2 separate regions of the Homo sapiens genome follow, and region 1 is linked to region 2. The links come from fine-mapping of genetic effects on gene expression. A gene starts in region 2. The other region holds a variant in brackets. All regions are shown on one strand. Distances are from middle to middle.

Evidence for each region.
Region 1: its variant is fine-mapped to the expression of CUL4B in esophagus mucosa (GTEx, PIP 0.96).

What each region holds. Positions count from the first base shown.
Region 1 is chrX:120,661,456-120,664,366 of GRCh38, forward strand. No RefSeq gene overlaps it. Among named protein-coding and RNA genes, the nearest start is that of C1GALT1C1, 33 kb to the left of the region's middle. The variant CTTGT/C (reference allele first, on the strand shown) is at 1,353.
Region 2 is chrX:120,559,969-120,562,808 of GRCh38, forward strand. It overlaps CUL4B (cullin 4B), which reads right to left and starts at 994. Exons shown (of 20, transcript NM_001079872.2): 1 at 115-994. The coding sequence starts at 670. RefSeq lists enhancers at 63-948, 946-1,240, 949-1,833 and silencers at 1,214-1,293, 1,594-1,643.

The sequences.
Region 1 (2,911 bases), 100 kb after region 2:
GGCCTAGCTACCTGGGAGGCTGCGGTGGAGGAGGATCAATTGTGCCCAGGAAGCGTAGGCTGCAGTGAGCTATGATTGTGTCACTGTACCCTAGCCTGGGTGACAGATCAAGACCCTGTCTCTAAAATAAAAAAAAAATTAAAAACTGAATCTATCTAAACGAGCAGCAATGATTTATCATCAGCTAGCACATCAGATAACATTTGAGTGGAGAAAAATGGGCTGTTATCTAAATCCTTCAAACAGGCTAGGTGCAATGGCTCACACCTGTAATCCCAGCACTTTGGGAGGCCAAGGCGGGCGGATCACCTGAGGTCATGAGTTCAAGACCAGCCTGGCCACCATGGGGAAACCCCATCTCTACTAAAAAATACAAAAATTAGCAGGGCGTGGTGGCAGGCACCTGGAATCCCAGCTACTGGGGAGGCTGAGGCAGGGAGAATCACTTGAACCCGGGAGGTGGAGGTTGCAGTGAGCCGAGATCCCACCACTGAACTCCAGCCTGGGTGATAGAGCGAGACTCCATCTCAAAAAAAAAAAAAAAAAAAAAAAAAAAAGGCCAGGCGCAGTGGCTTAGACCTGTCATCCCAGTACTTTGGGAGGCCGAGGCAGGTGGATCACGAGGTCAAGAGATCGAGACCATCTTGGCCAACATGGTGAAACCCCATCTCTACTAAAAATACAAAAAATTAGCTGGGTGTGGTGGCGCACGTCTGTAGTCCCAACTACTCGGGAAGCTGGGGCAGGAGAATCACTTGAACCTGGGAGGCAGAGGTTGCAGTGAGCCGAGATCGCGCCACTGCACTCCAGCCTGGCACTGGAGATTCCGTCTCAAAAAAAATAAAATAAAATAAAAATAAATAAATAAATAAAAAATAAAAAAAATCCTTCAAACAAAGGACATGCGTAATTAATTCAGTTTCCTCAAAGTGATCAGTTTTGGAGAATCAGGACACAAAAGTCCAAAAAGGATAGATTAACTTTTTAAAATATTTTTCCCCGCTAGCAAAGAATAAATTTTATATTGGTACCCTTGAGGTTTACTACCGTTTAGAAAGCCAATCATTTGGGGCCTTGTCCATTGTTTTTGCATGCCAGATGACGTTGCCAGCACGTTTAGTAAACAATACATTGTAATTCTCAGAAGGTTGACTGCAACCTTCTTCTGTAGCCTTTCTTACCTCCCTGAAAGTTCCCTTTGTTTTTCAAGATTACACGAAGACTCAATCGCAATCACGTATCATGATGGAGTTTTATTTCTTCTCAGCATGCTGTAACAGGCTGTTTGATTTTCTGGGTTTGGGCTATCTCCTCTACAAAACTATAAGTTCCGGGGAAGGGATCTTGTTTGT[CTTGT/C]TTATCTCTCTATTCCCAATGACTAACATAGGGCTTAGCATATTGTAAGTGTGATGGTAATTTTATGTGTCAATTTGATTAGCTTAAGGGATGCCCAGAGAGCAGGTAAAACATTATTTTTGGGTGTGCCTGTGAGGGCGTTTCCAGAAGAGATTAGCATTTGAATTGGTAGAGTGTAAAAAGAAGGTTATCCTCATTAATGTGGGTGGCCATCATACAATTTATTGAAGACCTGAATTTGGAGGAAGAGTCAATTCACTCTCTTGAGCTGGGACATCCGTCTTCTCTCACACATCAGAGCTCCTTGGTTCTCAGGCCTTCAGATGCAGACTGAATTATCCCACTGGCTTTTCTGGTTCTCCAGCTTGCAGAAAGCTAACCATGGGACTCTTTGACCTCCATAATTGTGTGAGCCAATTCCTACAACTGAGTCTCTCTTCCTATTAATACATACATAGATATAAATATATTTTATTGTTTCTGTTTCTCTGGAGTACCCTGACTAACACAGTAAGGTGTTACATACATATTTGTTGAATGAATGAGTGAAACTTATAAAGGCTAAGCTAACTTGCCTATTGTTAAATAGCTATTAAGTGACTGATCCAAGACTTGAACTAGGCTAGCTAATAGTAGACCCCAAGTTGTAACCACCATACCAGACTATCACTGTTCTTTTTTGCAACTGAACCATGTCAAAGGCCATAGAGTAATTGCTAGGGAACTTAGAATCAGCTTTTCCCTCTCCTCTCTTTTCCCCTTTCTTTCCCTCCCTCCCTCCCTCCCTTCCTTCCTTCCTTCCCTCCCTCCCTCCCTCCTTTTCTTCTAAGATCTGGAAGGGCTATTTGAGGTCATCTTGTTCAACCTGCACATTTTACAAAGGAGAACCCTAGAGTTGAATCAGTCACGCGGCTTGCCTAAAGGCAATAAGTTAGTGGCAGACTTAATAGATAAGTTTAGCTTTCGTGGTGGGCATCATTCTAACAAAATCAATGGAGATCTAATTTATTTCATTCTTGTTTACCCAATATCTGTTTATTATAACTAGATTAGTCATGCCACTAACCTGGGACTGTGTCTTGCTCATTTCTACCTAAGTGGCATAGACCACACTGGTTCCTTTGCTGGGGATTTATTCTTTTTTCCTACATCGATCTATTTTATTCATCCTTCAAGCCCTAGCTCTGTTCTCCCCTCCTCCATACAGACTTCTCTGGCTCATTGCAAACTCATACAGCACTCTGCATTTGGTCTTTAATCACACATTACCATGTATTTTCATTTAAATGTTCTCAGGTATGTCTTTCCCACAGGCTCCCCCCACCACAAGCTCATCAAGAGCAGGATCTATATCACATGTAAACCTCTTTTGTAATCCTCTAGACTCCTAGAAAAGCACTAGACACATAGTAGACACTCAGGGAATAATTCTTGAATGAATGAATGAATAAATGATATAAACAAGAAAAAAAATGAAATGGTAAACTCTGCCATCTTGTGGTTATTCATCTTTGGTGTTGTCATTTTCACTGTATTTTTTTAGTGTTGAAATTAG
Region 2 (2,840 bases):
TGCATAAAACATTAGGCCACCTCCAAACTGTTTAATATATTAACATAAATAGAGCACGTGACCCCTCGAGTGTCAAATCCTTATTAGGTGATTATGGATTTTGGCCTTGGTTACCTTTAAAGTTCTTGATCACTAACTTCTTAGCAGAGCCAGGTTTGCTGTTAGCAAAGCTAGAGACGGTGGTAGAAGATTTGGCTAGGCCGTTTGCATGATGCACCGAAGCCACAGAAGAGATTAATATACTCTTATTTTTAAGTTGCTGCTGCTGAGATGTTGCAGCAGTTGGTGAAGATGAGGAGGAGGAGGAGGAGGATTCCTCAGCCATCTTCGCATCAAACCCTACAAACTCCAGGGTGTCTTCAAAACGCAGCTTCTTCTGTATCGGTACGTGGCTGGAAGCAGCCACTGAAACCCCCAGGCAGAAGGACGAGGTTGAAGGGGATGCCGAATCCCTGGGTTGTAAAGGAGGAGTGGAAGAGGAGGAAGAGGTGGAATCAAAGTCTTCTCTCTCGTTACTACTGTTACTGCTGCTACTGCTGCTGCTGTTTAACTTTCTCTTCTTGGCAGAGGTGGGCGGAGTGGTGCTGGTATTACCATCAGTGGCAGATCTGACCTCCTGAGCAGCAGCAGCAGCTGAGGGACTGGGGGAAGAAAAACCTGTTGGAAACATGAAAATAGCGGGGTCAACAGGCAGAGGAGCATCAAAAACCTACGTTTATATGCCTGCGTGCGTGTAGGAGAGAAGGTAGCAATGCTAGAGGGGGAAGGGAAGAAAGAAGAGAGGAGAAACACAGAGGACGAGAAGGAAAGTGAAGGGGGGGGCTACACCGGGGGAATGGGAGGGTTTGGGAAGGCGGATAGGCTGACACCAGGAGTGAGCAGAACGAGGGGGGAGAGCGAATGAGGAGGCAGACAGGTAAACGGCCGTGCCGTCCCCCTCCCCTGCTTTTCGATCTCTCTCCCCCCCTTTCTGCAGGAGCGACTCAGCGAGTCTGTGAGGCTGCAGCTCCTCCTCCTTTTCTCCCTCTCCCTGGGAGGGGAGAGGCTGTGGTTGGGGGAAAGGGGGAGGGGGAAAGAACCAGGGCTTGTTATTGTCAATAGCACAAGAGGCTAAAGATGGCGCCATTTCCGGTCACGCGGCGCCGAGGGAGGGGCGGTGTCAACCTCAGGGAGTGGGGGTGAGGGAAGCGCTGCAGCCGCCCGGGGGGCGGGGGAGCTCGCGCGTGAGGGGGCGGCTGGAAAGGGGCGGCTAAAGTGCCCCAGACGCTCGCGCTAGTTCGCTCCTGCTCCCGCTCCCCTTCGCGATCCCCTTTCCTGGCAGCGCCTTCCTTCCCTGGCCCACCGGGAACTCCCACTCCCTCCTTAACGGTCCCGCGGGAAGCTTCGCGCCGCAGCGCCCTTACCGGAAGTGACTGGGCAGACACTTTTCATAGCGCCCAGATCCCGAAGCCCCCAGGTCCGCAGGACTTGAGTGGGGGGGGGAAGGGGGGAGGGAGAAATTGGGGGGAAGAAAAGTGGATAGGAGGAGGGGGCGGGCCTTCGAGACACCTTCGGAGCTCCTGATTGGAGCTTTCTGAAGGCGAGGGGGTGGGGGGGGTGGCGGGAGGAGCGGGAAGGAGCCTCGGGGGAGGGAAGGTAGTGACGGCGAGGGGCGGAGTGAGCTAGCTGGGAAAACGGAGGAGGAGGAAGAGGAGGAGAGAGGGAGGGACGGAATAAAACGTAAGGGTCCGGGAGAATAGAAACTTTGAAAGAGATGAAAGAATAAGGAGTGGTTGCAAGGCTAGGGGAGTAACCCTAAATAGAGGAAAACATAATCATGCCATTATGCCCGCTGCTGGAGAGGAATGTCCCTATGTTAAGATAGGAAAGGAGAAGAAAACGAGCTAAGATAGGAAGAAAAGGACTTTTTAATTCGGTGCCGGTATAAATTGTTTCTCTTTTATCTCAAGGCACCACAGACCCAAGGCTGAATAAGGCCTGAATTTTGATGCCTTTCTCTTTCATGTAGCTGTAAATCCTTTTATCTTACTACCAGGAGCATTTTCTAAGCTGGCTGGCCAAATTAAGTGTGTATTCTAAGGCGAAGAAATGGAAAGGTAACTAACCCCTCACCCACCCAGCACTATGCCCAGGATCGTCCTAACCCCCACTCTATCAGTCCTTAACTCAGTAATTTATAGACCCAACAAAGCTAAGACCCACTTCCTTCTTTTGCCAAATCTCAGTTTACACGCTGTCCCAAAGGAGACATTTTAGAACCATATCGGCAAAAGTCAGTGTTTTCTACTAATGTGTTTCATGACCCCATGCTTTACAATTGATTATTGATTTAAAAAATCTTTAAGTTTGGTTAAATTAGCAACAATAAACCTTGTAAATTCCCTGTTGGGAGTTTTTACTTAACCTTGGGGCATTCTCAGAGGGAGGTAACACAATATCAAAAACTAAATTTGCCAACCTGTTGATCATTCTAACTGCAAAAGCATTCAGTTAGCATGTATGGTAAGACTATGCAAGGTCTCTGCCCTTGAGAAGCCAGTAGGGGAAGATAGTTTCAAAACTAATTTCCATAACAATAATATGACATATATACAAAGTGCTGTCAGAAGAGGCAAAACAAGAAATTTGGGAGAAATCTGGAATAGGAAGAGTTCTACAGAGATTATGTTTATGCTGTGTCTCAAAGTGGGAGTTGCCAAAAAGAGAAGAGGGAACAGGATGAAAGGCATTCTGGGGAACGGAAACAAGGGCAAAGCAAGGAGTGAAAGGGCCAGGCCTGTTTATGGAAACATGGAAAGTGCAGTGAGGCTGGGAAGTAGGATGTCTGGCTGGGAGTAAGG